Regions from separate parts of the Homo sapiens genome. Here regions 1, 2 and 3 are each linked to region 4. Evidence: fine-mapped expression QTL. A gene starts in region 4. Each other region holds a variant in brackets. All regions are shown on one strand. Distances are from middle to middle. Region 1 overlaps CGNL1 (cingulin like 1). Region 2 has its middle 23 kb from the start of CGNL1. Region 3 overlaps CGNL1 (cingulin like 1). Region 4 holds the start of CGNL1 (cingulin like 1).

What was found.
Region 1: its variant is fine-mapped to the expression of CGNL1 in lung (TOPMed, PIP above 0.99).
Region 2: its variant is fine-mapped to the expression of CGNL1 in skeletal muscle (FUSION, PIP 0.95).
Region 3: its variant is fine-mapped to the expression of CGNL1 in pancreas (GTEx, PIP 0.93).

The regions. Positions count from the first base shown.
Region 1 is chr15:57,447,468-57,455,467 of GRCh38, reverse strand. CGNL1 (cingulin like 1) reads right to left here. Exons shown (of 19, transcript NM_032866.5): 5 at 3,867-3,968; 6 at 3,179-3,327; 7 at 1,650-1,785. Among named protein-coding and RNA genes, the nearest start is that of CGNL1, 75 kb to the right of the region's middle. The variant T/C (reference allele first, on the strand shown) is at 3,084.
Region 2 is chr15:57,349,443-57,357,442 of GRCh38, reverse strand. No RefSeq gene overlaps it. Among named protein-coding and RNA genes, the nearest start is that of CGNL1, 23 kb to the left of the region's middle. RefSeq lists an enhancer at 1,231-1,952. The variant A/C (reference allele first, on the strand shown) is at 3,755.
Region 3 is chr15:57,474,598-57,482,597 of GRCh38, reverse strand. The region is part of intron 8 of CGNL1 (cingulin like 1); the gene reads right to left. Among named protein-coding and RNA genes, the nearest start is that of CGNL1, 100 kb to the right of the region's middle. RefSeq lists an enhancer at 6,936-7,435. The variant T/C (reference allele first, on the strand shown) is at 4,154.
Region 4 is chr15:57,372,443-57,380,442 of GRCh38, reverse strand. It overlaps CGNL1 (cingulin like 1), which reads right to left and starts at 3,938. Exons shown (of 19, transcript NM_032866.5): 1 at 3,876-3,938.

The DNA.
Region 1 (8,000 bases), 75 kb before region 4:
GACAGCTGTCAGTTACTGCGGAAAATCAGCAACTTCAGAGACTTCCCAAGAGCTAAGATAACATCTTTCCCTTTTAGAACCAATAAAATGTTCACACAAGGAATCAAGAATATGACAATGTTTTATCTTCTATTTAAATTTGTTCATGAAGCTACACTTTTATTGAAAGCCATAAATTGTTCATTGACATCATTTCTGGAAACTTATTCTTAGAAACAATTTTTAAAGTAGTAAAAGTATAAATGTAAAAAATGTTCCCCACAATCTTTGTTTCAAAATTACAAAAAAGGGAAAAAAAATGTAGGAGAATGGTTAAATATATTGTGGTTTATCTTCTTAAAAATTAAATACAAAGAGCATAAAGTATAATAAGAAAGAACATTTTTGATATCTTAACTTTTAAAAGCAGGTATCAAAACTGTAGGGACATTATGATTGTCCTTATATTATATATACATGGGTAGATGAAAGCTATCAATAGATAGGGAGGCAAACAGAGATTATAGAAATAAAAATGGCTGCTCAGGTATTAGGAAAGTATGTGTACGTCCCCCCCTCCCCCTTTTTTCAATTTTCGTTTTATGTTGTTTTAATATTATTTCAGTGATAAATACATATATCTTCTTGTCTTTGTAACTCTGAGCCCTGAGAGAAAACAGCACCATGAGAAGCAGTATTATACCAAGAATGTGGTGGTTTTTAAGGAATCATTTGATAAAAAGAGGAATCCCAGTTGGTAAGGAACAATGCTGAGGGCTTCTCAGGAGAAAAGGTCTGAATAGGGAAAGAGAGATGGTCATATATGGAGAAGAGGCAATCACCCTCCTCTGCCAATGTGAAAAATGGATTCATGAGAACTCCTGGGCTGGGTGACCAGAGTCACTCATCTCTGAGCTCCTGCCAGGTCATCGGGTGAAGAAAGGCTAAGTTCTAAAAAGTAGGACCTAAAATCTCTCCTGAGGAATTATTTCAAAACTGGAGGAGGAAAGGAGTGACAGAACAGTAGACAACTGAGACTTAAAGAGTGTTCCAGGGACTTCAGAGCCAGAAGCTTCTAGCCCCAAGTAAGGGAGAGAGAAAACACCTAAGCCCAAAGAGGGAGGAAGTAGAAAATTAAATATTAACACAGTACCTTTATGTTTTGACTTTTAATTTTTTTGGCTTTGTTCTAAATTGTTTATCATCTCTTTGTTGGGCTATTCCTACAAACCACACTTATAAAGAAGTAGGTTCCAAAACTATGCTAGAATACAGGTGATGATAATGTTACAGCAAACATCAAACACCTAAATGGGTGCAGAGATAAAAGTCCTGTCTTTTTCTGACCCTCAATTATACTTATTCCCTCTCCCAAAAATGTACATATTGAAAACCAACATTCTTGCTAATAATTTCATACATGTGAATCTAATACCTCAACAAGATAATAATCTAGAGAAGAGAGAATACATAATAAAAACCCATAATAATTAGCAAATGCCAAGCTGAGAGGAGAGAATCAAGCGCATCCACTGACTCACAGATCATAAGAGCACAGGTGGAGCAGGTGTGCACATCAGAAAGTGGCTTGCAGTCCACAAACCCTAGCCACTCCATCTTTCCAGGCAGGTGGGGCCTGTCTTATCACCTGACCCCACAGCCCTGCTTACCTCAATCAGAGCTCCCTTCTCCCTGTCCTCCGATCGCTTTGCACTGTCCAGTTCATCGTGCATTTCTGAGAGCTGGTCCTGGAGATCCCTGATCTCAGTCTGATGCTGCTCCCGTTCCATCTTCACCTGGAATAGCCTGGCAGGGAAGGAAGCCCATTAGACAGGCTCTTCTGGGCTCTGCTTATTTCCATCCAGTCTGATTTCTGATCTTCAGAGGGTTACACAAGTCTCTAAAGCCCCAAGGAGCCTCCCCATTCTCTGTTCTGCACTGAGCAAGGGATCACCAACCTGAAAAGGTGGCTGAGAAGAACTTAGGCTATGGTCTAATTGCTTACAAGAGGATAAATGAGAACTCAAACCAACAAAGTGGGTATGGTTATACGGAGACATTTTCTCCCCAAAAGGAGATGGTAGGGTACTAGAATTTGGATGCAGAAGATAAAGAAATGAAACAGAAAAATTTCCCACTAAAGCCACCCCATCCTTCCACTGTCTACTATCCCAGTGTTCTAGACCAGGAGAGTTGGCAAATTATGGTCTGTGGGCCAGTTCAGCCCACTGCCTGTTAGTGTAAAGTTTTACTGGAACATGGTCATGCTCATTCATTTATGAGCAGCCATTTCATTTCACGACACAATGGCAGAGCTGAGTATGTGCAACAGACTATATGACCCACAAACCCTAAAATAATCACCACCTGATGAAAAAAAAGTTTACAAAACTCTGTCCTGAACCAAACTCACAACTACTATACCTTTTTATTTTGTAAAACTTTTACTATACCCTATATTTTCTGATTTTTTTCTTACTAAACTCTTTTCTGCAATTAGCATCTATGATTGTTTTAAACGCAAAACACCACCATCAAAACTGCAAGGACAATCAAATGCTTTTATTATATAATGTCCTCTTTTTCTTGAACTTCCCCCTAGATTTCATTCCCACTTGACTTTCCACTTAAGGCTTCTGTCGTGTCCACAGAACGTCATAGCACTGTTTATTCTTAGACCTTGGTTTTCGATTCCTTTGCCACAGCTTTTAATACAACACAATGGCAGGGGCATCTTGGACCTAACTTTCCTTCTCTGTAGACTCAGAGGAGGTATAAGCACCCATCACAAACACCAGCACCATCGAGGATAAAATGCACAGGCTGAGAGCTCACGGGGGCCACGTAACACATGCTTTTTAGAAGCTGGGCCCAGGCTCCTTGAACTCTGTCTTTCAGTATCAGCGCTCAGTGCTCCCTGCTTCCCACTTACCTGCTAGGAGGTCCACTTTAAGGACTGAAACTTTGTAACGTATACTTCAAGGTGCACAAAGAATGTTAAGAATTACTAACCTTTTTGTTTATCAGTCTACATGTGTCGCCAGCTTCATAATTTTACAAAGATAAGAGGAAGAAAAGGAAAAGCCAGCTGCCTTTATAAATAT[T/C]TGGAAGGCTGGGTAGTATTAAATGGACAGAAAGTTTCTAGCTACATGTCATAGAGAACCTGGGAAGGGCAACAGGCTCTCAGCCCAGAACTTACTCCTCCAGATTCTTCCGGAGCTCCCCTTCACTTTCTTCCAGTCGTTGCTGCAATGTGGAGTTCTCCTCCACCTTTTCGTTGTGTTGGCTTCGGAGCTCTTCTAGGTTTGCTCTCATCCTCTCTCTCTCTTCTTTAATGTTCTGTTGATTCTAACAGGAATCAGTGTGATTTTAAAGAGCCTCCACTGTACATTAACGTAACCCCACAGAAGCCTACTTCTCAACAAGCAGACTCCATATCTTTGCACTTACATTATTAAACAACTTAATCAAACTATATAATTAAGGCACAGGAGTTCTTAACTAGAAAGAACATCAAACATTTATATTTAATGAACTGTAATACTTGTAAAAGAAAACACAAACACAGCCAAACCTCATTCTGCTATTTCTATGATTTAGTTCAGATGTTTTATATACATTTAGTTTCCCATTGGCCTGCCTAAATCCAACAGGGTTTCTTTTACTCTGTCTAAGCAAACAGTCTCTATAGGCTTTGGTTACATTAAAAAAAAAAATTCTTTGGACAGCAGCAGCCAAATACACAGGAATTTATTCAGTGATTAGAGGAATGTTTCTTTTGGGGGAAAAAAAATTGGCTTTCACTCTGGTTATCCCAATGCATGTAAAATATTCTTTATCAACCAAGACAGAAATGGAAAAAATAACATAAAGGAAAAACCAGATACCTTGACTTCCAGTTGAAGCTGTCTCTGAAGTTCAGCCACTTCTATGGTCAACTTGCTTTTCTGTTCCAATAGATCTTTGACTTCAGATGTGGAATTACAAGCCTATAATTAATTGCAAAGATATACTAATTTAAATGTTCAGGGTGCTTTATTTTAATTATCTTCCCCCTCCAAATATAATCAGTGCAGTAACAGATGAGGCATAACACTAAACATTTTAAGACCCAATTCAAACATCAACCCCTTCAGGGAACCTTCCCTGACTTGGTGGGCAGAGTTAATGTTACTGCCTGCCTTGGGACTCCAGTGAACTTTATTCTACAGCATTTACCAATCACAGGTATTGTTTCATCAGGTATATCAACACTAGTCCAATATGACTAAAACTTGCATACATGGCATATTTGTTAGAAGTCCGTAATGTATTCTGTAGAATATTATAAAATAGCAATGCATTAAATTTAGGATAATAAAACTTAAAAAGCCTCTCCATAATAAATTCTATATTCCAGAGCATGGAAATCAATGGTTAGCAAAAAATCAGCAACAAAATCTTTTTGTAAGTAAAGACAGTCATTTTTTCTATTTTAATGGCAGAATACAGTTTAGCTTTAGTGTTTCTTAAGAGTGGTTTGAGAATTACTACATCAGGAGATTATGAACTTTTATGGGGCAGGGACCAGGTTTTATGCACCTCTGTATCTACAGAACCCAATGTATCTCATAAATTTAATCAAATCTCAGTAAATGATTGTTAGAATTCTGGTTTTGCCATGATAGAGTAGCAAATATCAGATTTACCCTCCCAGCAAAAACTATGAAAGCTAGACAAAAATATATAAAACAATTGTTGACAGGCACTGAAAAGCAAGCAACACAGAGTTATGATCCTTACAAAGGAAAAGACAGGAGGTAGCCCCACATTCACCCTGGGTTCTCCATGACTCCATTTCCAAACCACAGCACAATAAAATTTTATAAGCACAGACAATGTCATTAGGAAATTGCAAATTAAAACAACAATGAGGCTGGGTGGGGCGGCTCATGCAGTAATCCCAGTACTTTGGGAGGCCGAGGCAGAACGATCACCTGAGGTCAGGAGTCTGAGACCAGCCTGGCCAACGTGGTGAAACCCCATCTCTGCTAAAAATACAAAAATTAGCCGGGCGTAGTGGCACACGTCTGTAGTCCCAGCTACTCAGGAGGCTGAGGCAGAAGAATCGCTTGAACCCACGAAGTGGAGGTTGCAGTGAGCCAAGATCATGCTACTGCACTCCAGACTGGGTGACAGGGCAAGACTCCATCTCAAAAAACAAACAGACAAACCAACGAGATACCAATATATACGAATTAGGATGGCCAAAATTCAAAACACTGGCAACACCAAATGGTGGCAAGGATGTGGAGTAACAGAAACTCATTCTTTGCTTGTGGGAATGCAACATGATACAGATAATTTAGAAAATGGTATGGTTGTTTCCTACAAAACTAAACATGCTCTTACCATACAACCCAGAAGCTGCCCTCTGGGTGTTTACCCAAATTAGTTGAAGTCTCATGTCCACACAAAAACCTGTACGTGAACGTTTAAAGCAGCCTTATTCATAACTAACAAAACTTGGAAGCAATCAAGATGCCCTTAAAAGGTGAATGTATAAATTGTGGTATATCAGACAATGGAATATTAATACTCAATACTAAAATGAAATGAACTACCAATCCATCAAAACGCATGGGAAAAAATGCACACTACTAAGGGAAATGAGCCAAACTGAAAAGGTGATATACTGTGTGATTCCAACTACAGAACACTCCAGAAAAAATAAAACCTTGGAAACCATAAAAAGATTACGGGTTGCCAGAGGTTAGGGGAGAGAAAGGAACAAACAGGCAGAACACACAGGATTTTTAGGGCAGTGAAACTATTCTTTATGATACTAAATGATAGATACATGTCATTGTTCATTTGTCAGAAGCCTGTAGAATGTGCAACACCAAGAGTGAACACTAACGTAAACTATGGACGTCTTTGAGTGATAATGATGTGCCAGTGTAGGTCCCCTGATTGTGAGAGGTGCGCTCCATGCTATAGGATGCTAACAGTGGTGGAGGGCGTATGTGGGGACAGGACAGTAAACGGGAACTGTCTGCACTTTCCACTCAATTTCACTGAGAACCTAAAACTATTCTGAAAAATAAGGTTTGTTAATTTAAGTGAGAAAAGTGTCCAGAGTGGCAACTCACTGATGAAAGAAATAGAGATTAGAGTTTAGAGATAGTAAGCAACAGGGATTTCAAGGTCAGGGTATGAGAGAGGAGAGAGGTCCACAGAAGAAGTTCCAAGAACCTACAATAAATACTCCCTGGATTCTTGGATGATATCCTAAGCTGTATATGAGCAGAGCAAGAGTTCAAGAGGACTGCAGAGAAGACCTATTAGGAGGCAAAGAACCCAACAGAAACTTCACAGGTTGCCCAATGCTAGGGAGACACTAGGGTTCCAACTCAACCAAAATAGAGAAACCTTGGTGGACATTCTGGCATTCATTTGAAATCCAAGAAAGGAACATGGGTCATGTCTTAAGAGTAAGGGCAAAAACTTAAATAGACACTCCCTAATAATGCCTAGAACAACCAACCATATAGAATCAAGGTAATCTGTAAGTAATTTAACTGTCTGTCAAAACAAAACTTAACATTCTTCAGGGGGAGATAACACATTCCAGAACATCTATAACTCATCACCCACTCGGTCTAGCATACAATTAAAAAAAAAAATCCTTAGACATGCAAAGAAGTAGGAAGAACTAACCAGTAACTAAATAAAATAAACAACAGACATAGAGATGACCCAGATGTTAAAGTTAACAGATAAGGACTACAAATTAACTATAACTAATATTTTTAAAATAGAAACAATTATGGACAAAGGGTTTTTGTTTTTTTTTTCTTTTGAGACAGAGTCTTGCTCTGTCATCCAGGCTGGAGTGCATTGGCCAGATCTTGGCTCACTGCAACCTCTATCTTCTGGGTTCAAACAATTCTCCTGCCTCAGCCTCCCAAATAGCTGGGGTTACAGGTGCGCACCATCACACCTGGTTAATTTTGTATTTTTAGTAGAGACAGGGTTTCACCATGTTGACCAGGATGATCTGGAACTCCCGATCTCAGGTGATCCACCCACCTTGGCCTCCCAAAGTTCTGGGATTACAGGCATGAACCACCATGCCTGGCCCTTTTTTTTTAATCAAGTTCCAGAGATAGATTCTATAAAAATATAACCAAGTAGACACTCTAAAACAGCAGTACACAATATCTGAAAGTTAAGAACTCACTGGATCACAGCTCACTGTAATCTCAAACTTCTAAGCTCAAGTGATCCTCCTACCTCAGCCTCCTGAGCAGTTATGACTACAAGCATGAGCCACCATGCCTGGCAATTTTTAAATATGGTTTTTGTAGAGATGGGATCTCACTATGTTGCTCAGGCTGGTCTCAAACTCCTGGCCTCAAACAATCCTCCCACCTCGGCCTCCCAAACTCCCAGGATTACAGGCATGAACCACTGCACCTGGCCAAAGAAAAGTTCTTAAAAGAACCATCCTTTAAATGAAGGATGAAGAAAAACATTCTTTTAAAGACATCTTAAAAGAGAAAGTCTTAAAGTAAGATTGACGTAGCCAGAAAACAAGACTAATGAATTTGAAAGGTCAATAGAAAATATCCAGAATATCTGATGCCCCAAACATACAACATACACACACACACACACACACACACACACACACACACACACGAAAAGAGAGAGAATAGAGCACAAGAGATATGAGGAACACCATCAAAATTTCTAAGATACATGTAATTGGAGTCTGAGAAGAGCTGGGAGAGACCGAATGTGAAAGAAGCAATATTCAAATAAATAATAGCCAAGAATTTTTCAAATCTGATGAACCTATCAAGTCGAGAGCTCATTGAACCCCAAGAAAAATAAATAAAAGAAAAACCACTCTTAGGCACGTCATAGTCAAAATCTAACAATTGACAATAAAGATAAATTATTAAAAGCACCCAGAGGGAAAAGACACATCACTTTCAAGAGAATAACACTAAGAATGATGGCTGGCTTTCCAATGG
Region 2 (8,000 bases), 23 kb after region 4:
CTTAACTATTAATACTAATAGCATACTGTTGACTAGAAGCCTTACTGATAAGTTGATTTGCATGTATTTATTACATATTCTTAAAATACAGTTAGAGAAAATGAAATGTTCTTAAGAAAATCATAAAAAAGAGAAAATATATTTACTGTTCATTAAGTAGAAGGTGGTCATCCTAAAGGTCTTCATCCTCATCGTCTTTACACTGAGTAGGCTGAGGAGGAGAAAGAAGAGGGGTTGGTCTTGCTACCTCGAGGGTGGCAGAAGTGAAAGACAATCCTTGGATAAGTGCACCCTTGAAGTTTAAGCTTGTGTTGTTGAAGGGTCAGCTGTACCTATTTTTTCAGCTTTAGTATACACAGAAAGTAGTTGCAGAATTCCTAACCTCCACCCCCCGCCCATGAGAAGTGTATTAACCATACAGTATTTGTGTATCAAGTCAAAACCCTATTTTCCCTGGGTACTCAGGTTGGTTCTTTTCTTCCCTACCCCCTTCAGTGTGGTTATGTTATTCATCTGTATTATGGTTGGGTTCTTTTGTTTTTTTTTATTTCTAAGAGACAGGGACTCACTCTGTCATTGAGGCTGGAATGTATGGAATGTAGTGGCATGATCTCAGCTCATTGCAGCCTCAATCTCCTAGGCTTAAGTGATCCTCTCGCCTCAGTCCCTGAGTAGCTAGGACTGCAGGCATGCGCCACCATGCCTGGCTAATTTTGTATTTTTTGTAGAGACGGGATTTTGCTATGTTCCCCAGGCTGGTCTCAAACTCCTGGGCTCAGGCAATCTGCCCACCTCGGCCTCCCAAAGTGCTAGGATTACCTGTGTGAGCCACCATGCCCAGCCTGGTTGGGTTTATTTGTAATTGGGTTCCATTTGGGGCTCCCAAACATCTTAATTTTTTAAAATTTACATTCAGTAAAATTCACTCTCTGTAGTTTGCAGTTCTATGAGTTTTGACAATGTAGAGTCATGTATCTACACCACAGTCATGCAACAGAACAGCTGCATCAGCCCCCAAAATCCCTCATACAGCTTAATCAACCCCCCCACACCTCCTATTTTTGGCAACCACTGATCTGGTTTTTGTCCTTATAGTTTTGCCTTTTCCAGAATGTCATATAAGTGGATTTGAGTATGTAGACTTTGGGGTCTGGCTTCTCTCACTTAGCAGAATACATCCATTGTACTCTACAGGTCACAATCCACTGTTATTATTTCTCTTATTGCTCAGATTCCCTAGGTTTGGCTGTTTTGAGCCCTTTCAAGCTGGCTCCTGTGATCTTCTGACATGTTCTCACCATTTTTCTAGCATTTCCTTACTTCCAGGCACCATAAGCTGGTTCAGGATCATCTTACACTTTCCCTTTCCCAGCCCTGGAGTCCTCACCCCATTTTTCCAAGGAGTGGTGGAGACCTTGAGAATCCCCCTCCAGTGGGCGAAACAGCCCACTCCAGAGAAGGCATGGAGAGAAACTCACTTATCCACTGGAGAGTACAAGAGAGGAGAGAGAGGAAATAGCTCGTCTCATCAGAAGATGGCCAGGTATAGGGATTAAATGCAGATGGGTGGTTAATATGTAATTCAAGCTGATGGTGGCGCATATCAGTGCTGACACCATTAAGCATCTATAGCTTCTGTGATTCCCAGCAAGATTTCCAAACAGCATTGGGCATAAAAGGCTAGTCAAGGTTTCCAAATACCATGCCAAGCCTAGGATGCCCCCTTCCATCTTGATATGTAGTCTCATTGCCTTTATACCAACTGTCCCCCCACCTCCCTGCCATTAATAGCCACAAGAGTGAAGCTACATTCATGGACTGAACCCCCACCAAGTCGGTCAATTACCTCAGTTGAGAACCCTCTTGATTTCTCCCTAAAAATTGTGTTTAAAACTTGTTTTTAAAATATTTTTTGACACCCCTTTGCTAAAGCAGTTTGTGTCAGGGGCAGCTGTGACAGTCACCTGGGGTTGCTACGGGAACGGTGTCCATGGATTGCAAGCGACACCTGGCTAGCGGTGGGCAGCTGGCGAGCTACATGGAAGGAGGGCTGTTTTTCCTTTGAAAGTAGAACATTTCTTCCTTCAGGTTGTGAACAGTTAGCCACGGGGCGTGGGATTTTACTTAGGAAAGAGAGGCTGCTGTGGGACTGGGCACCCACTTGCCATGGCAGCTGGGAAGGGAGAGGAGTCAGCAAAAACTGGCTGGGACTAACGCTCCGAGGACGCACTGGCTCAAGCTGCCCTTTACCAGCTGAGGCCAATGACTGTGGGTGAGGCAGGGAAACCAAGGGGAGCCCGGGGGTGAAGGATTGCAGTGGGGGTCAGGGAAACTGCAGGTACCACACTGGGTGCCTCGGTTCCTGTTAGAGCTCCCTCCCTGCCCAGGGCCAACACCAGAGACCAGATCCCTGACCTGAACTACAGTCCCACTGCTGTACCCAGATGCCCTTGCAGTCATTCATAGTCACTTTGGGTGAGTTGCATTTGTCAGTCGGACTGATCCCCATGTATTCCTGCATTCCAGGCATAATGCAGAAGCCACTGCTCCCAAGAGCCTGCCCCACTGGTTTGCATGAGACTCACGTGCCTGGGTCATTATAATAAGCCCCACTAAGATGGGACTCAGGTCAATGAGGACAGAGCATCTTCTAGTATAACAAGTAAGGGTTTATTGATGTTGGCCTTTAGATACTAAAAAATAATTGTTTTTGTAAATAGCAAAGGCAAAGGCAAGAGTAGCCAGTGTTAGCTAAGGCAGTGGAGTGGTTCTCAACCCGCGCTGCACATCAGCGTCACCTGGGGAACTGTTTCAGCCCAGTGATTCTGTGGCTCTAGAGTGCAGCCTGGCTTGGATTTTTAAATACTCCCCTCGAGTGATTCTTAGTGGGTGGCCAAAATAGAGAACTCCTGCTCTAAAGTAGAATAACCTCTAAGCTAAAGAAAATTTGGACCCCATGAGTATAACAGATACTATCATACCTTGGAGATAGCATGCCATAATGTGGTTCAGTTCATTATTAGACGAAAGTTTCCTCGAAGCTGAATCTGCATTTACACACATTATATCACCCTCTGGAAACAGAAGTAAGAGTCAGGAAAGCAGATTTCCCCATAAGTACTTCTTATACTTCCAGTGTAGCTCACCCGTTAGATAGAAACACAAGGCTTCATTTTCTCTTTGCATTGATTTGATGATTGTCCCTGGTCATTGAATAGGGGACCTTAGGGGCCACACACTGCTATGAGGAAAAGCAGCATTCACAGTCAAAGCTCTGGTGAGACCAGCATTACAGGCCCTGGGGATGTCCCAGCGTCTGACCCTGAGCAAAACTGTGTAGCAGTTTTGCTCCCACACTTCATGGCTGAGAATAAGGAGGAGAGGTTTCCTACGGTTGGAGGTTCTGGGCAGCAACGTCTACCATGACCTCCGCAGTGAACCTGTAGGCAGGGAGCCCCAGAGACAGGGTGAGAGCAGAGTCAGTGAGGGCCTGGGGTGCTAATTAATGACCTTAGCATTGGAGAATGATGGTATTAGACTAAGAATGAGACCAGTCAGAGAGAGGAGAGTCAGGAGATCTGGCGGTGGCTCCAGTGGTAACACATCTGAGAGTCACTTCAAAAGTCACCCACCCTTGAGGTCATCAACTGCCTTAAGAGACATGGGAACATAGTCACTGAAAGTGAAGGGACCCACCTATGGTCACACAGCCAGATAGGGGCCTGGAGAGAGCAGATGTCTGCGGCTTCATCTC[A/C]GTCAGTCCTGTTCATTCTGAAAATGCTTCCGAGCACCGGGCATAGAGCCAGCTTGTGCTCCACACTGGGGACGTAGTGGAGAACCCCGTCTTCAAGGGTTCAGCTCACACACCCTGCACTGCTTTCCCATGCCTGCTGTAACCAATTACCACAAAGCTACTGGCTTAAAACAGCACACATTTATTATCTTACAGCTCCGTAGTCCAGGAGTCCAACACGAGGCTCACTGGGGCCAAAATCAAAGTGTCAGCAGGGGTGCATTCCTTTCTGGAAGCTCCTGGGAGAGCCAATTTCCTTCCCTCCTGAGGCCCCCACACTCCTACCACACGGCCCCCTTCCTCCATCTTAAAGGCCAGCAACGCTGGGCGGGTCCTTCTCACAAAGCAACACTCTGCGCTCCTCTGCTGCCTCCTCTTCCACTATTAAGGACCTTGATGATGATATTGGCCCCACCTGGATAATCCAGGCTCATTTCCCTGTATTAAAGTCAGCTGATTAGCAACCTTCATTCCATCTGTTAATTCAATCCCCTTGGCCGTGTAACAACACACTTACAGGTTGCAGGGATGGGGGCCTAGACATCCTTGGGGACCATTATTGTGCCTACCACACTTCCTGTGAGACTTCATGACCACCGGGTTGTGGTGGGAGAAAGGCTGGGAATCCAAAAGCTCAGCAGAGCTGAACTAGGTGTCGCAAGAAGAAAACTCCCCCCAGGCGATCATCCCAGGATGGAACCTTTCTGCAGTAAACACAGCAGCTGGAGAAAGGCGGTCTAGACATCAAGGATTTGTGTGCGCCAGCCTCACCTGATCACGCACAGACTGTGTTTGCCGGAAAGTGGAAATGTTATGCGCGGTCTGGGAGACCAAGTTCTCTCCCAGGGCCAGAGGCATAGTGTCTGGAATGAGCCAGAAGTTTAAAAGCTAACCTGTTATGAAATCAGCCAAGAGCAGAAAGCGCAAAGCTTCCTGGTCCTGCCCCGACCCCACGCCCGCTTGCATAACTCTAGGCAAGCAACTGAGAGCGTTTAGAGACCCCAGAGGACCTCCCAGTTCCAGCCAGCAGGAGGACGGTCACAGAAACTCAAACCCAAGAGGATGTATTTGGACTGGAAATAGTCTCCCAACTGGTCACCCTATCTTTAGCTTCCTCTTCACCTCCCTGCTGCCCCAGCAATCTTTCCAACAGGCCAAGCAGAGCACACTCATCCAGCTGAAGCCCTGCGGTGACTTCGTGGACCCTTCACAATAAAATCCTCTCTCCACAGAGAGTCGGGCAAGGCCCCTTGCAACCTTGGCCTTGCCCTTTGTGTCCACAGCTCGGTTTCATGAAAACACAACCATCTTTACATCCTCCAGGCCTCTAGAATGAACTCCCCTTCCTTCTCTTTCTGGAAAACTCTAAGTCACTATTCAAGACCACATACCACTTCCCCAGGATTCCCACTAGAGCTATGTGGTCGCTTTGCTCTCTGTTCCCAGCCGGGATTCTCCTGCTGTGCTGAGCACCTGGAGGGCAGGAGAACTGTTGTTTCATATATGTCCCAGGGACCTACTGAGCCTGGCTCAGTGGACGCTGTAGAAACATTTGTCACATTAAGAAGGATTATAAGAGGTTGGCACGCTCTGCTTTTCCAGTTCTCTTGGAATTAGGAATTTGGAAATGGAATCCGAATCAGTTTTACTAATGTCTGAAATCGGACTAAGTCCGCCCCTAAAAGAAAAACTACGTTGGCAGGTCTGATAGATGGATGGCATTCATGGCCACAACTAGTGACCTTCTGTATCCACACCCTTGGCAATGTGAGTTTGCAATGCCTCATTAAAAGGTAGAGCATATTTTCTCCCCCCGCTTGTATCTTGGCTGGCCTGCTTTGGCCAACAGAATATAGCGGAACTGGCAATGTGTCCTTTAAGTCCAGGCCTCATGAGGCCTTTACTGCTTCTGCTCTTCTCGTAGGACCCCTGTCTCCACTGAGAGAACAAGCCTGGACTAACCTGCCAGAGGAAGAGAACAGGCACGGGTCAGTCTGTGGAGCAGAGCCAACTCTTCCTACCTGAGGCCATGCTAGACAGGCCAGCCCCCAACCCAACTGCCAGGGACCACTGAACAAGCCCACCTGGATTCAGCCAGCCTGGGCCCAAATCACCAAAACCACCCAGCCACCATGTAGACATGTGCCATAATAAATGGTTGTTGCTTTCAGCTACTAGATTGGGACGAGTTTCGTTACACAGCGTAATAGATAACAGATTAGGACAGCTGATGGCTGAGAAGCAAATGAGAAATGAGTGCTTGACTATTCTACGAGTGGAAAGGAGGGAGTTTATTGTTTTCGTTATTAAAGTTTTATTCTAAGGAAAATGTCCCTTCCTCCTTTGATCTATATACACTATCGATGCTTTTATTTTCTTTCTTTTCTTTCTTTTTTTTTTATTGAGACAGAGTTTCACTCTTGTCTCCCAGGCTGGAGTGCAGTGGCACGATCTCAGCTCACTATAACATCCGCCTCCCGGGTTCAAGTGATTCTCTCGCCTCAGTCTCCCAAGTAGCTGGAATTACAGGCACTTGCCACCATACCCGGCTAATTTTTGTATTTTTAGTAGAGATGGGATTTCTCCATGTTGGCCAGGCTGGTCTTGAACTCCTGACATCAGGTGATCCATCTGCCTTGGCCTCCCAAAGTGCTGTGATTACAGGTACGAGCCACCGCACCCGGCCTATGATTGCTTTTCATTTGCTTCTTCCTGGAGTTCACTTGGGATCGAGAAGCAGCAATGGACTCCAACATAGTCTTTTCCTGAGTGGAAATAATTAATTCAGTGCTTCCTGAAATAAGGAAGCCATTGGAGACCTGTTTTTTGAACCTACCTAATGAGTCTTGTATCTGTGTTCTGGATGCTGGCTTAGAAAGAGGCTGGGCACGGTGGCTCACGCCTGTAATCCCAGCACTTTGGGAGGCCAAGGTGGGTGGATCATGAGGTCAAGATATTGAGACCATCCTGGCCAACATGGTGAAACCCTGTATCTACTAAAATACAAAAAATTGGCTGGGTGTGGTGGCTGGTTCCTGTAGTCCCAGCTACTCAGGAGGCTGAGGCAGGAGAATTGCTTGAACCCGGAAGGTGGAGGTTGCAGTGAGCCAAGATCGTGCCACTGCACTCCATCCTGGTGATAGAGCGAGACTCCGTCTAAAAAAAAAAAAAAAAAAACAAAGAAAGAAGTTATGGGCCTGGTGGAAAAGATCAGTTGAAGAAGGGTTTATATGGGACATCAAAAATAAGAACAAAGATAAGACCCAACCTGATTCTGAAATTTTGACAGAGGTGGAGGTGAGATGTCAGGCTAGGGAGGCAAGGCCCTGGAATCTGAAGTGTGGTGTGGTGATGGTCATCTTACAGGATCCTGAAGACCTGAGGACCTTATGATCAAGTCAGCACATCCAGAACACATTTACGTCTGTCCCAGCTGGTTTGGGCTTGCTCTAACATTTCCGCATAACTCACTGGGCCTGATTCAAGGATAATTTGTAAAGTTCAGAATTTTTCTTAGCAAAGTTGAGTAAGAAGGACAGAGGGGTTGTTACTGTCACTGAAATGTATCCACCACTCCAAGCCCAGCTCAAATCCCACTGCTTCCCTAGCCACCTAACTGGAAGATGCTCCCTTCCTCCTCTGAATTCCACAAGCAACTCCTGAGGATTGCAGGGCACATATCTTGACTGGCTTGACATGTAACTTAATGTTATCCAACTGCTAGCCTTTGCAAGGGCCCTACCTACTTCAGGTGCAAATGCGCAGCCTTTAAACTGGGCAAATAAACTTTTGATGGGGATCTTGGGAACCCAACCACCACTTATAATGTTGCTTCCGTGAGAAATGTGTTCTCTGTTCTCAGAGAAAGGCTGGGAAATGACCTTTGGTTGGGGCACCAGGCATCTCCAAGATTTGTCAGCTTTGAGCATGGGAGAAGCACATCCCCCTGGAGGACTTTTTAATTTTACTTAAGAAACACATTCACATATATTTCGCATGATTTATGTGTCACTCCAGTTCAGTTTAAACTCCTTTAATTATATTCTTCTCCAACCTCTGATCCAGAGGTAACCTCTCCCTTCCCTAACCCGCAGCATGCTCTCAGTCAAGAAGGCTTTTTCGGCCAGGCGCAGTGGCTCACCCTTGTAATCCCAGCACTTTGGGAGGCCGAGGCGGGCAGATCACAAGGTCAGGAGATCGAGACCAT
Region 3 (8,000 bases), 100 kb before region 4:
AATGCCCAACCCACTTTTACAGAGGTTCAAAAGCAATTATTGCAGGAAGAATAACCCTCTCAACAAATGGCGCTGGAGCAACTGGATATTCACAGGCAAAATAAATAAACCTCAAACTAAACTTCCACCTTACACAAAATTTAACTCAAAATGGACTGTGAGCTTAAATGTAAAATGCAAAACTAAGAAACCTTTAGAAAACAAAAACACAGAAGAAAATCTCTGGGATCTAAGGTAGGAAAATAATTCTTAGACTTGACACCAAAAGCACAATCCATAGAAGGAAAAACTAAATTGGACTTCATCAAAACTAAAGACTTGTACCTTTCAAAGACCTTGTTAAAAAGGTTTTTTGTTTTGTTTTGTTTTGTTTTGTTTTACTAGAGATTGGAAGAATGTCTTTACAAACCACATATTTGACAAAGTGCTCATATCTAGAATACATAAAAAATTTTGAAAACTCAACAGTTTAAAAAAAAAACAAACCCCAAACAATCCAATTAGGAAATGGGCAAAAGACATGAATAGATATTTCACCAAAGAGGATATACGTGGCAAAAGAGCACATGAAATGACATTCAACATGATTGGCCATTAGAAAACTGCGTAAAACCACAATATAATATCACATATACCTATCAGAATGGCTAAAATACAACATATTGACAATGCCAAATGCTGGGAACAATTCAGAGAAACTGGGTCACTCATACATTGCTGTTGGGAATGCAAAATGGTGCAGCCATTCTGGAGAGTAGTTTTGCAGGTTCTTTAAAAGCTAAACATGTAATTACCATTCATCCTAGCAATTGCACTCCTAGATATTTATCTCAGAAAAAAATTAAATCACATTCACACTCCTAGATATTTATCCAAGAAAAAAATTAAAACATATTCACACTCCTATTTATCCCAGAAAAAAATTAAAACATATTCACACAAAAAGCTGTGTTCATAGAAGCTTTATTATAATAGTACAAAACAAGAAACATCCCATAAGTCCTTCAATGAGTGAATGGTTGAACAAACTGTGGTGCATCTATACTATAGAATACCACTGAGCAATAAAAAGGAAAGAACCTGTTGATACATGCAGCAGCTTGGAGGAATCTCCAGAGAACAATGCTGAGAGAAAAAAGCCAATTCCAAAAGGTTACATTCTGTATGATTCCATCTATATACCATCCTGGAAATGATAAAATTTAAAAACCAGAGAGAAGTACACTAGTTGGGTCAAGGAGGGATGGGAGGGAAAGCGAGATGGCATGGCTATAAAAGGACAACATGAAGAATGCGGGGAGTGATGTAAATGTTCTATATCTCAGCTGTATCAATGTCAGTATCCTGGTCATGCTATTGTACTATAGTTTGCAATACATTACATTTGGGGGAAACAGGATAAAGGGTATATGGCATCTAGCTGTATTTTTTTTTACAATTGCATATAAATTTATAACTATCTCAAAACGTTTGATTTTTTAAAAATTCTTTTTTAAACTTTGCCCATCTTTAAAAAAAAAAAAAAAAAAAAAACCCCAGGTCTTTCCTGGATCACTGGCTTGACTAACAAACATACTATTTATTGGTTGAGCTGATAATTTCTGGATACAAAGAGAAGGCATTTAAGGTGTACTGTTCATTAAGGAATGATTTGGGGGAAATAATAGAAAATCTACAATGACATATCAAACAAAGTTGGTTTCAAGAGGAAGGGGGATGGCCTAAACCAACTGGTGAGAGTAAGAAGGTTCCAGATCCACTGAGTAATGCCCCAAGTTCACAGACTGATCACTGGAAACCAAAAGCATACCTGTCTCCTCTTTAGAAGGCTGTATAAATTCTCAGCCAGAGCATACAATTTTTTTTAATGAATATTAGTTTCATTCTGAAAGACGGGATATGGGTCATTTAAATTCTTCTGATGTCTTTCCAATGATCTCTTCAAACTCCTGCCCAAAGACCACTAGAGACAGGTACAACTAACTGGACTATGGTATTTTCCCCCACAGACAAATGATGGTTGTAACTTTTTAAAGTATTACATTCAATGCATATTTTCTTTCTTTTTTTCTTTTTTTGAGACAGAGTCTCACTCTGTTGTCCAGGCTGGAGTGCAATGGCAGGATCTCAGCTCACTGCAACCTCCGCCTCCTGAGTTCAAGCAATTCTCCTGCCTCACCATCCCAAGTAGCTGGGATTACAAATGTACACCACCACACCCAACAAATTTCTTTGTATTTTAAGTAGAGACAGGGTTTTACTATGTTGGCCAGGCGGGTCTCAAACTCCTGACCTCAGGTGATCCACCCACCTCGACCTCCCAAAGTGCTAAGATTACAGGCGTGAGCTCCTGGCCTCAATGCATATTTTCATACCCATGCTCAATGCTGTGGATAGAGAGACCCTAGAAATAAGAGGTATAAAAATTACCCATCTCAGGTGATAAAAGTTTCATTTATCCTCTTCTAGAGTCTCACAGTTCACACTTTATTTCAAAAGTCACTTATTTAGTAACCACATACTGCTAATACTGCAATAAAACCAACACTTGCTGCCACAGCTCTTTGGGATAACCGTGAGCCAAAATTCCTGGAGCAGAAATCTCACCTGGCATAATATGTAGCTCACGGCTTCTCCTCTGTCCTTTGCTGTCACCCTCTCATACCTTTCAGACTCATCTTTTCCCCCTTTATCCTCTAGATATTTAGCTCAAACTCCTCTTTCACTTCTTGGTGCTACCAGCTTCCCTGCTTCCTCTCCACACCACCTCCCATCTTCTCACTATCCCTTTGCACTTTTCTCCTTCCTGCCTCCCCTGTACCTCATTCCCATCATACTTCAAACTGCTCTGCCTGTTTTGTTTTGTTTTTTGTTTCTTGAGAAGTTTCTTCAAACTGCTCTGCCTGTTTCATTTTGTTTTGTTTTTTGTTTCTTGAGAAGGAGTCTCATTCCATCACCCAGGCTGAAGTGCAGTGGCACAATCTCGGCTCACTGCAACCTCCACCTACTGCGTTTAAGCGATTCTCCTGCCTCAGCCTCCCAACTAGCTAGGATTACAAGCATGCACCACCATGCCCAGCTAATTTTTGTATTTTTAGTAGAGACAGGGTTTCACAGTGTTGGCCAGGCTGGTCTTGAGCCCCTGACCTCAGGAGATCTGCCCGCCTTGGCCTCCCAAAGTGCTAGGATTATAGGCATGAGCCACCATGCCCAGCCCCTTTGCCCATTTCTAATGCTGATTGTTTCTATTGCTGGGCACTAGTCAGTCCCCAGGCCTCTTCCCTCTAGCTCCTGCCCTTCCTTTCCCATGACCCCTTTTTCTGGCTTACTCTGTTTTTCACTCCCATCCTCCACACCCTCACCTTGGTCCAACTGCCTTCTCCAAAAGTACATGCATGTTTACAGAGCGTGTATTTGTTGGCTGGATAAAGGTGCCAGCCAATGTACTGGAAAAGGCAATAAACCAGGGACCCAAAAGCTGGATGTCAGAACCATCTCAAACAACTCCTTGCACCTTCCTGGAGAGCTGGGGGAAGGAGAGTGGCAAGTGGGCTTCTGCAGTGCTTTGCAGCTAGCTATTGATGGACAATTAATCAGATTCTACTTAAGAGATCAATAAACAGATTAATTTAGATACTCCCTAATAAGGTAAGAATCTGGGCCAGGAGCTGTAGCTCACACCTGCTATCCCAGCACTTTGGGAGGCAGAGGTGGGAGAACCACTTGAGCCCAGGAGTTCGATACCAACATGAGCAACACGGCAAAACCCCATCTCTAAAAAAAATACAAAAAGTAGCCAGAGGTAGTGACACTCACTTGTAGTCCCAGCTACTCTGTAGGCTGAGCTGGAAGGATGACTTGAGCCTGGGAGGTCGAGGCAGCAGCGAGCCATGATTATGCCACTGCACTACAGCCTGGGTGACAGTGCGAGACTCTCAAAAAAAGAATCTACCCTTGGGTCACCATGTATCCTTTCACAGTCTAGGCCTATCTAGCAGCTAATGAGACCTTTTAAGCTATTAACAGCTTTCCACAACACACCACAAGACAATCACTGCTCTGGAGCAGGCTTTATTTCAGGAAAGGGAGGTAGCAATGTCTACAGTGAGAGGATCCCATCCAGTTAAAGTGCCTTCCAGAAGGAGCTGTGCTG[T/C]TGACTTGAGGATGTTTAACCAGGTGAACCTTCTCGCAGCACCAGATGCAAAAGATTCGGAACTTCTCAAGAAACAAAAGCTGTGAATTTAAAATGAAAGAAGCTTGGGGGATGGGGAGGCTCTTCACCTGCAATATCTACCAGGCCCACATGTTGTTCTGCCGCCTCTCCTACAGAGCATCTTGATCACTGTGGCCTTTGTCCTCCTACCACAATGAGCGGCTCCCATGGAGAGACAGGCCCCTGACCTTGTGTGCCCTCTTTGTGAGCCCCATGAACACCATGAGCCCACGGTCCTGGCTGCTGGATGCAAACAGGGCCGGATGTACAGGAATGTCAGCCGTAAACTCAGAGACAGGATTAACCTCAAAACAAGAAGTTATTTTGGGGCCTTACTATCCTGTTAGTTAAATGACAGGCCAGACTCTAATTAATTTCTACTAGTGTTTTGACAAGGTCAACACCAGTGGCTACACAGGGGCAAAGTAAATTATTAACCCTCCTTCTCCACTGGGCCTGAATCAGCCAGAGAGTTCACCACCTGCCAGCCACGTTTTCTCTCCAGTTCAGCAGCAGGAGGGGCATGGTACACAGCACAGGCATCTGCTTCTGGCCTGAAGGGTCACTAAGACAGCTACAGGAAGTGGCAATGAGTTGAACCTGCAAGGGAAACAGTTCACAATGGGACGGGGAGAAGGAAGCACTGCACACAGGGTAGGAGCCTGGCATCCTGGTGCCTCCAAAACCCCAAAACCAAGCAGCAAAGGAGCCATGGAAGGCTTCTTCTCACAAAAAGTCATAGGCTTAGAGTCATGAAATGCCTTGACCAGGCAGAAAGAGGTCCCTGTAAATCAGAGAGCATGAGGGGTCCAAAGAACATACCTTTCCTTTGGACTTGGCATATGCTGGACTCAAGTTTAGGGTCATAGTTATAAACCCAACTGGCTCAAAATACTTCCCCAGATGGACTCTATCGGACAACCTCACTGCCTATTTTCCAAAGTTTACTAATGCCTTGGTTCTTGCTCCAAATACATGAAGAACCCAGTGTTTTCCAACGAAGTTTGCTAGCATCTAAGTCTTCGTTGCACTGTCATCCAGCAAACACTTTGCAGAGTAGATGTCTTTGGGCTCTTGGACAATTCAGGGATGGAAAAAACAAGATTTTCCCATCCTCCTGCACCACGTCTCCCTGAATGCTTTCAGATCTATCTCTAATGCCACCTTCTCTGGACTCTATCATTTATTTGCTTGACTTCTTTGTCCCCAGCCTTATTTCAAAAAGTCTTTGAAGCACGTCCAGCCTTTTATTTCTAACTGTAAGGGGACTCAATGTTTCCCTAAACCCAGAGACTGCCAGTATTCCTTCCCACTAGACCACACACTTGAGAAACATGTGCAGAAATTTAACAAATAAAACAAAAAGAAAGAAAAAGAAGGGAAGTGTTAAAAGGAGAAATATGTGTGCTTGGCCATATTCTCTCCTTCATCTGTAAGTTCCCCAAGGATAAGGCCCGTGCATGACTTTGGAATTTCCTGAGGAATGGAACAAGCTTCTCCCAGTCCCCAACTCCTACTCACTGCTGACAAAACAGCATTACTTTATTCATTACTGTGAAAACTGCTGCAGTCACCCTGTGGAGCAAACACCTTGCCCTTTATTTTGTCTTTCATGAAACTAAACTAATAATGCTGGTTCAAACAAGTTCTGTTCCCTAGAGATGACTCGGACAGAGGGATTTTTCCATTGCATCTAACTTGGACTTGTTCTGGCCCACATTTCCAGAATTCTAACGTGTGGTCACCGTGAACACATGACTTACTCTGTAGCTAAAACTCACTAAACCACATCTAATCACTTCAGAGGCCGCCTACTACTCTGATGGTTTCTACTGAATTCTTCTGTCACCAACTATTTGCCTAAATCCATTTACATCTATCCAGTACCTCAAGTAAATAAGCACTCAAGAATATTTGTTGAATGAATAAATACATGAATGCAAACAAAACTATTAGCTGTCTAAGGTAAAACTATAAAAGGCATAAAAATGAATAAGGAAAATGGTTACCCCTAAAGAGGTGTTCAAGTCTCAGAGGAGAACAAGACATACTTTGGTTCAAGAAGTTCCCTGCGTCTAGAATGTCCTTGCCCACCCATAAGTCACCTTGCTAATTCCCACTGCCCCCAAGACTCACCCAAGCCTCACTCCCTCTTAGGAACCCGCCCTGGCCTGCCTACACGGAGCAAAGTCACCCTTTTCCGAACTTCTGCTTTCCGTGCCATATGCCAGCTTCTCATGCCCCACACCGAACTGGCTGTCAGCTTTCTTGTCTGTCTCTACTAGGCTGGGGAAGAGTTGAGAGCAGAGGCCACCTTGTCCATCTCTGCACCCCAGATTTCGCATGATGCTTGATGTGTTGAGTAAACAAACAAAAACTACAGGCAAAGCAAAACACAATAAATGCCACCCGAGGGACAAAAGACCCTGGGGATTTCAAAGAGAAAGAACAGCAGCTGCTGGGTGGACCCAAGAAGGAGATGTCATCTGACCTGAGCCATGAAGGATGGCACGATTTTAAATGGCGGAGACCATAGCTCGGGGGCTGGTGAAGGATGTTGGGGACAGACAGGCTAATATGAGCCGGGGGAAAGAAGAAAGCAAGCAGGGAGACCACTAGGGCACACGCAGAGAATCCAGTGAGAGAGCACAGGACAGCAGGTCAGAAAAGACAGTCTGAGGCTGGAATACGTACAGCCCTGGGAGGATTATTTTCCCCACTGCAAGAAGAAGATTCTTTGGGATCAGAGATGTGGTGTGTCAAAAGTATTCAGTCACTCCATCTATTGCTCATTAACTAGGCTTGGGGTTGCACAGCAGGCATTTATGTAAAAAGAGAAGAAAAGAAAACACACACACACACACACACACACACACACACACACACACACACCACACTTGTATATACATAGATCCCAGTTTCTCAGAGTGACATGATTGACATTTTGGGTCAGATATGTCTCTGTTGTGGGGACTGTCCTTTCTTGCAGGTCAGGATTGCAAAGCAAAGTCCCAGAGGTGGCTAATACGGAGTAACAGGGCACACTCTTCTGTGGAGGTGACAGGGAATCCTTTAGTGTGGCTGGCACCAAGCTCACCAGGGACAACAGTGAGGGCCAGGGTTGCAAAGGCAGGTGGGAGCCAGGTGGTGGAGTGCAGGCCTTGGAGACCAGGCAGGACTCTGTAACTGAAGGGAAGCCACCAGGGACTTGTGAGGGTGGCCAACCTGCGGCAGGTGGTGTGGTCAGAAGGGGGCAACACAGTTGGGGAAATAGGGAGATGGCTGCTGAGGCCTGAACCAGGGCAGCAACTGTGAGAAAGGAGGTCAGAGGATGGAACTGAGCTGCTGTGGATGTGGAAGCCACAGACCTGGGTAGCAGACAGAAGGTGAAGGTCAAGGTCAAGGCAGAGGCAGGGGCCCCCAGTGACAAAAAATTAAAAATACTTCACTAAACTTAGGACTTCTTCTTGACCTGCCTTAGGAGAGGTGCAGATCAATACTCTTATTTCACTGTACATGGAATAAATTCAAAAGATATGAAAGGTTTACACACTGTTTTTTGAAAGTTTTCCTCTTACTCCATCCCCCTACATATCCCCAGAAGTAACCACTATTGACTAGTTATCTCCCTCTTGAAATAATCCATATGTGCACAAGCACATATGCATGTATAGCAATATATTATGTATGTTTTTTATAACACAAATAGTATCCCTTTACAAGAGAGGAAATAAAAACAGAGAAAGACTAGGAGAATTCTATGAAGTCAATGACAAAGCTGGGTTTA
Region 4 (8,000 bases):
CAGGGTTTACATCCCCACCTGACTCAGGCCCCTTAAGGCAGGAACCTTATCCTGTTTACCAACAACTCTGGGTAATACATAGCTTTTGCTAGTAACAGGGGCTACTAACAGCTGGGCACAGTGGCTCATGCCTGTAATCGGAGCACTTTGGGAGGCCGAGGCAGGTGGATCACCTGAGGTCAGGAGTTCGAGACCAGCCTGGCCAACATGGTGAAACCCCATCTCTACTAAAAATACAAAAATAAGCGGGGTATGGTGGCGCATGCCTGTAATTCCAGCTACTCAGGAGGCTGAGGCAGGGAGGATTGCTTTAACCCGGGAGGCGGAGGTTGCAGTGAGCTGAGATCACATCACTGCACTCCAGCCTGGGTGACAGAGCAGAGTCTCAAATAACAAAAACAAAAAGACACCTTAGTGTGAATTTAAGATGAAGCACTATCTCCCCCAAGGATATTGGCTTGAGGGATGCAGGAGGGTGCATGAGGAGAGAAGTACAGGGGGCTGCAATCGGGACACGGGGGACACCAGGCTGAAAACACTAAGCCTTCCCTCCTCGGTAAAGGTCAGTCAACCCTGGTGCTATTTCCATCCCCCACCCCATTCCCTTTTTTTTTCTTTTTTCCTTTTCCATTTTCAGGATTTTCATGTCATAACTGGTTTCTTGATAACAGCAATGTCACATGCCTGAAAAAAGTAAGCACTTGGTCATTCAGAGAAAATTACCCAATTTTTGGTTTCCCCTTGAACTTTGTTTTCCTGCTCTGATGCCAACCTCTCAGCCATGCCACCGCCCTTTAGTGCCGAGATCAGAAGATGAAAAGAAAGGAAAAGCATAAAATCAGTTGGATATTTTTAAAAGGCCAATGGCATCTCTTAGATAAATGGGTTTCACGGGGAAAGAGAGTTAGGAGGCCATTAAATTTCTTTAACTCTCCCTCACCCATCAGCACAAGCAAATTAAACAAAGAAAAAAAGGAAGCCACCAGGGCAATAAATTCTTAACACAAACCCAAGGCCTTTTCTAGTTGCTGTATCCCCTTTCCCTAAATGAAAAAGTATCTCACTAACCCTTTCTTCATATTTTTCTTCACTTACTTTCTTCTAATCACTTTAGGATATTAGAGCTGCTACTCCAAAGTGAGAAATTGCAATAAATGTGCTTAGGCCCACATTTACATAAACTTTTCTTTTTGGGGGGGTAGAGTGTATTATTATATTCACAGTGTAACTATTGCTGTTCAGGGGTGACTTTTCAGACACCATGAATTCAACAGCATCCTCGAATAAGCATTTTTCTTTTCCCAATTGAGACAAGATTTGGAAGTTAACAAACCATTTAATAATATGGCTTCATTTTGTTGGCATGGTCTCACTCACTCACACACACACACACAAAAAAAACAGTAGGAAAACACTTTCCATATAGTCTTGCTCCCCAAAGGGTGATGATTCGGGTCAGGGGACACCCTGTAAGACAATGCGCTGCATGTAACCTCCATTTCAAGCCAAAGCCAAGACAATGAAGACGGCTCCCACAGGGTGCACACCTCCAGCAAGTGAATACAGTAGTAGCAGCAGAGCATGGTCGTGGAAGTTGGGGAAAAGCGAGAAAACCAAGTGGGCAAAATTATGTCATTTTTGTATTTTTCAAAATGAATGTTCTTTGGACTTACATTAGCAGCTAGAAATGAATGTAAATGTTCTTTCACTTCAGCAAGGCATTCTTGGAAGGATGTCATCCCACTGTTAATAAAAATACAGGCGGGGCACGGTGGCTCATGCCTGTAATCCCAGCACTTTGAGAGGCCGAGGTGGGCAGATCACCTGAGGTCAGGAGTTTGAGAACAGCCTGGACAACATGGCGAAACCCTGTCTCTACTAAAAATACAAAAAAGTAGCCGAGCATGGTAGCGGGTGCCTGTAATCCCAGCTACTTGGGAGGCTGAGGCAGGAGAATCATTTGAACCAGGGAGGCCGAGGCTGCCGTAAGCTGAGATTGCACCATTGCACTCCAGCCTGGGCGACAAGAGCAAAACTCTGTCTCAAAAAAAAAAAAAAAAAAAAAAAAAAAAAAAAAAACACATAGAGGGCCACCCCCTAAGAAAAACTTAAAACCACTGATTTGTGGTCAGGTAGCAACATCAGGGTGGAAATTTTAATGCAAACATCATATTTGGGGTACAAAAGTAAATTAACCAAGATCCCCGGAGACTATCACATTACTAAAAAGGGCAGTGAAAACACATTTTCTTGATAAAATATATGACCTAATTTAGCCAATATAAGCATGGTTACATTTTCCTTAGTCCTACTTCTCTATCATTTTTAAGACCATGTGACAGGTGTCTCAGGTGTCATCTCAGATGTGCCATGTTATACACTGTGTTCTGTCTGCAGGGCTTCATCATACTTCCAGAATAAGTTTAATCTACAAAAATGGACTTATGTTAACACAAATATCAACCACAAAACCTTAAGGATGTTGTTAGCTTTGGCTTTTTGAAGGAAAATTCTCCACATTTATGCAACTCCATTATCTACGTGGGGGAGTCTCCGGAGGGTCTCCAAAAGCTGACCAAACCCTAAAGTATTTTTTCTCCTTTTAATCTGAAATCATTCCCGAATATGACAAGTCAAATTATCACTTGGTTTTCCCTGAATAGGACAACCCTGTATTATAACCTTGACCCTGACAAGGACTGCTCGGTTCTAATGCCTACACTCCCACCTCCTTGGCAGAAAGTGCCCTGGCAGTATTGACTGTAAACAGAGAGGTAGAAACAAAGGGATCTTCAGTAAAGGCACCATCTACTGTCTAAAGTTGGAAAGCACCAATCAACAGGTTCTTCAGGTGGAGAGGTGGATTAGGGAAGAGCTATGAGGACCTGAGATGAGTTCTAGATCAGGACTGATCTTGAGCCGTCCGAAGAGTGGCTGGTGGGAGCAACTCTCAAAGCAGAGGTTTTCAAACTTGCCTGCACATTAGAATCACCTGCGGCGTCTTAAAAATTCCATTGTCCAGGCTGCAACCCAGGCAAGCCGAATCCAGATCTCTGGGAGTGGGACACAGGCACCAGTATTTTTTAAAACTCTCCAGATGTGGGGCCAAGTTTGAGAACCAATGCCCGCAAAAGCATTCCCAGCGAGCTTTGAGCAACGTTTTGAGCGGCATAAGCAGAGTCGGGAGGGCAGCGGCCTTAGGGTGAAGAACACACAAAGCAAATATACAAAGTTTCAAAAATCCTGTGTAACTAACTCCAACATGACAGCCAAGTACCTGTCTAGAGGCCAAACAGTGATGCAACTTGGAAAAGTCCCGGGGAGAGCTAGAATGTGTGCTCCGAGTGAGGCGGGGGCTCTCTCGGGGATGACCTCCCTGGGCGGCGCAGTGGTCTGGAGGATCGGGGAGAGAAAGGTCACACGCCCCTTTCTTTCCAGGGGATGGTCCGGCCGAGCACGCCGAGGACTTGTGTACGACAGGATAGGTCAGAAACTGCTTCGTGTGAGTCTCTCCCAGCTGTCACTAGAGCCGGAGGGTCCAGGCAGGGGTGCGAAGGCAGAAAGTCCCTCTTCACTAAAGGGAGGTTCTGCAGGGCCTCCTCCCTCCCACCCCGCCCCGAAGCGGGTTCCCCAGGGATCGCCCGCATCTGTTCTGCGCCTGCCCTCGGCGGGGCGCGGCGCGGGAGTCCGGGTCGCATCTTCGAGCCCCAGGACACGCGCGGCGCGGGTCACCGAGAGTGGACGCGCGGACTGAGCACAGTGCACCTGGCTGAGCCCGAACCCCTGGGGGTCCCGCCGCCCTGGGCGGCCCCTAGCACCCCGAAACCCGGCTGCCGGCGCACACCCCGCCCCGCTCCAGCCCGGAGCTCACTCACCGCCGCCGCCGCCTCCTCCCGCGTCCAGCTCCCGCCGCAGCCAGCAGAGCCCGGCCGGAGTGCAAGGGCCGCGGCGCCGCCGGGAGGCCGAGCGAGCCCGCGCCCCGCCCCGCAGTCGCCGCCCGCCCTCCTGGGAGGAGGGGCAGGGGCTGGCCGGGGGCCTGGACCCGCCGGGGCTGCCGGCGGGCCCAACCCTCCCTTCAATCCGCCCGCGGCCCGTCGGGACGAACCTACCCAGGAACCCCCGCACCACCCGCCCTCGGCTCCGCTGGGCCCGGGGCTGCGCTTAGACCTCACCCCTTCCCGGAGCCGTTCGTCCTTCCACCTCCCCTCCGCCGTCACCGGGCATTTTTCTTCTCCCAGCCTCGGCCTCTCCAAATTCCTGGCCTGCAGGAAGCCCTCCCTATTTCGCGCTCTCGACTGCGCCGAGCTCAGTTTACCCCTTTCCCTTCCTTTCCCTGCTTAGCCTTTTTCCCCCTCACTGTCAGAAACTTAAGGGATAGCGCTCTTCTGCCACCGCAAACCCACACCTATTTATTGAGCACCTACTGTGTCTAGACACTGGTGGGGAGGTTATCCCACTTGCGCGGTAACAAGAAATGTCTGTCTCTGTTGGAGAAACAGTAAAGTGAGGCGCCTCGTAAGGTCACACAGCTGGCGGTAGTAGGGCTGGGATTCGAATACAGTTTTTAGGTCCTTGTTTAGACCCACCCCACGATAAACTGCGGCACGCCTCTCGCTAGCTGTGAGAACTTGGGCAAAATGTTATCAGTTCTAAACCCCAGTTCACTCATCCGTAAAATGAAAAGCTGGATACTTCACCAGCTATGAGGATTCCCTGAGAAAACAACAACCTGTACTTTTTTTTTTTTTTTTTTTTTTTGGAGATGGAGTCTTGCTGTTTTGCCCAGGCTGGAGTGCAGTAGCGCGATCTCGGCTCATTGCCTCTGCCTCCCGGGTTCAAGCGATTCTCGTGCCTCAGCCTCCCGAGTAGCTGGGACTACAGGTGGCCACCACTACGCGCGGCTAATTTTTGTGTTTTTAGTAGAGACGGGGTTTCACCACGTTGGTCAGGCTGGTCTCGAACTCCTGACCTTAAGTAATCTACCCGCCTCGGCCTCCCAAAGTGCTGGGATTACAGATGTGAGCCACTGCGCCCTGCCCAACCTGTACTTAATACATGTTTGCTGACATATTGAATGAAATAGACCCTTGAAAACTTAACAATTCAAAACAATATAAAAGGACTTGAAAAAGTAATAGGTTGGTGCAAAAGTAATTGCAGTTTTGCTATTACTTTCAATGGGAAAAGCCACAGTTACTTTTGCTCCGACCTAATAATAGTGATTCATTGCCAGGAAAGAAAGAAAAAAAAAAAAAGATGCTACTTATCCCAAGTGGGCAGCATGGTCAAGGGAGTCTTTTTGGAGGAAGCGGTATTGCACTATTCCAGAGTTAGCAGGTCTAGGTTGGGGAAGACAGCCAAGGTGATGGGGTGTGTGAACAGTGCCCAGAGGGTGGACCAGCTTTCCTGAGCAGAGGCTGCCTGGGGCAGGACACACATGCTAGAAAATGGGATGAGGCATACTAGAAAGGTGGATGGGGTCAGAGGGTGGAAAAGGCATCAAATGCCAAAGTGAGGGGGCTCAAGGCAACCAAACAGTACTTGGACACCTCAAAATGACTAGAATGGAACCTGCATGCAATAGAGGGCACCTAAATGGCCCTGGGAACCAGATGGGGGAGACCCATGGCCTAGGAACCAGCAGAGTCATGGGGTAGATGGGGAGTTGCAGCAGGGAGGGACAGGAAAGAATTTTCCAACTGGGTGCAGTGGCTTATGCCTGTAATCCCAACACTTTGGGAGGCCAAGGCAGTGGATCACCTGAGCACAGGAATTCAAGACCAGCCTGGGCAACATGGCGAAAACTGTCTCTACCAAAAAAAAAAGAAAAAGAAAAAGAAAAAAAGCGCATACACACACACACACACACACACACACACACACACACACACACACACACACACAAATTAGCCAGGCATGGTAGCATGTGCCTGTAGTTCCAGCTACTCAGGAGGCTGAGGTGGGAGGATCAACTGATCCTGGGAGGTTGAGGTTGCAGTGAGCTGTGACTGCCCCAGTGGACTCCAGCCTGGGCAACAGAATGAAATTGTCTCAAAAAAAGAAAGAAAAGAAAAGAAAGAGAGAAAGGAGAGAGGGAGGGAGGGAGGGAGAGAAGGAAGGAAGGGAGGGAGGGAAGGAAGGAAGGAAGGAACTAATGAAGGAAGGAAGGAGAGAGAGAAGGGGAAGGGAAGGAAAAGCAGAAGGTAAGGAAAAGGGGAAGGGAAGAAAAAGGGGAAGGGAAGGAAAAAGGGAAGGGAAGGGAAGGAAACGGGGAAGGGAGGGAAAAGGAAGGGAAGGAAAAAGGGAAGGGAAGAAAAAGAGAAAGGAGGGAGGGAGGGAAGGCAGGAGAAGGGGAAGGGAAGGAGAAGGGGAAGGGAAGCACAGGGAAGGAAAAGGGGAAGGGAAGGGAAAAGGGAAGGGAAGGGAAGGGAAAAGGGAAGGGAAGGGCTCTTGTTTGGAAGACCAGATGTCTTGGTGACCAGATGTGTGCAATGAGGGAGTGGAACTGGCAAAGGCAAAGCTGAGGCTTCCAGGCTGGGTGCCTTGGAGCATCAGAAATAGGAACAATATGGAAAGAGGCTGCTTTTCAGGAGAGCTCCTGAAGGTTCCATGGAGCATGAAGTAATGGTGGAACTTTTCAGTGGAAATGCCCCAGCAGGCAGCTGGGAAGTGGAGGAGTGTCTCTGGGCAGCATCCATGTGGAGGGTGAGGGGAGAGTGAGGACCAGGAGCCAGGAAAGGAGAGTGCAGTGCCTTCACTGAGGGTGGAGGAAGCAGAGGGCATCACCCAAGGGAGAAAGAGGAGGGTAACTGAGAGCTGTTGGGAAGAACCCAGGAGTCTTTGACGGAAGCCCAAGGGTGAGGGACTCCTGAAGGAGAGGGCAGTGCCGAATGTCACGAATCCACTTCTCACATGGGCCCTTCCAAGGATCTGTAGAGAGTGTGCACTCAGGAAATATTTGTTAACTGTCAAAAAAGCATTTCATCAGCAATTTCCCCTCCCATACAGATATTTTGCTGATGACAAAAATAAGAGGAGTCATTGGAGGTAAAGACAGAGGTGAGAGAGATCAGCTACCAGAGATACTGCTTTCGTTGCTCTTATTGTCAAGATGAATGCTCAAGCCCCACCAACCTCAACTTAAAGCAAACATTTCCAGGGAATGCTTCTGAAAAACATTTTTGTCTTTTTTTTTATTTAATGTAAGTCTGGCTCCCTTAATTATGGTTTTTGAGCCAGTAGAACGATTAAGGGGAGGAAGAGCGGGGTCAGTGGCAGCAACTTGCCAAAGAGAAGTTTCCAGGAGGATGAGTAGAGAAAAATCACCTCTTTTCTCCTCCAAATTTTCTGTACATAAAATACATGATACAAAAATATTCACATAAGTGCTACAGTATAAATGACATTTGAGTAGTGACACAGAATATAGGAAGAGTGACAGAAGGGAGGCTGCAGCATGGAATAGGTCTTATGGCGTGCACTTGGAAGACGTAATGCAAGGCCAGGCGTGGTGGATCACACATGTAATCCCAGCACTTTGGAAGGCCAAGATGGGTGGATCACTTGAGGTCAGGAGTTTGAGATTACCCTGGCCAACATGGTAAAACCCTATCTGTACTAAAAATACAAAAAAATTAGCCGGGCGTGGTGGTGCACGCCTGTAATCCCAGCTACTCGGGAGGCAGAGACAGGAGAATCACTTGAACCCAGGAGGCGGAGGTTGCAGTGAGCCAAGATCACGTGATCGCACTCCAGCCTGAGTGACAGAGTGAGACTTCATCTCAAAAAAAAAAAAAAAAAGAAAAGAAAAAAGAAAAAGAAGAAGATGTAATGCACATGGATAACAGAAAGAGTGCGGAGGGCATTTCTGGAAGGTGTGGTCATACACCCGAGACAGGGAAACAGGAGGAAGTGAACAAAACAAAAAATAATACACGGTTTATTTGATTGAAGTGGAAAAGCTATTCCGCTTGTGAAGCAAGATGGGATTGGGAAGGGCA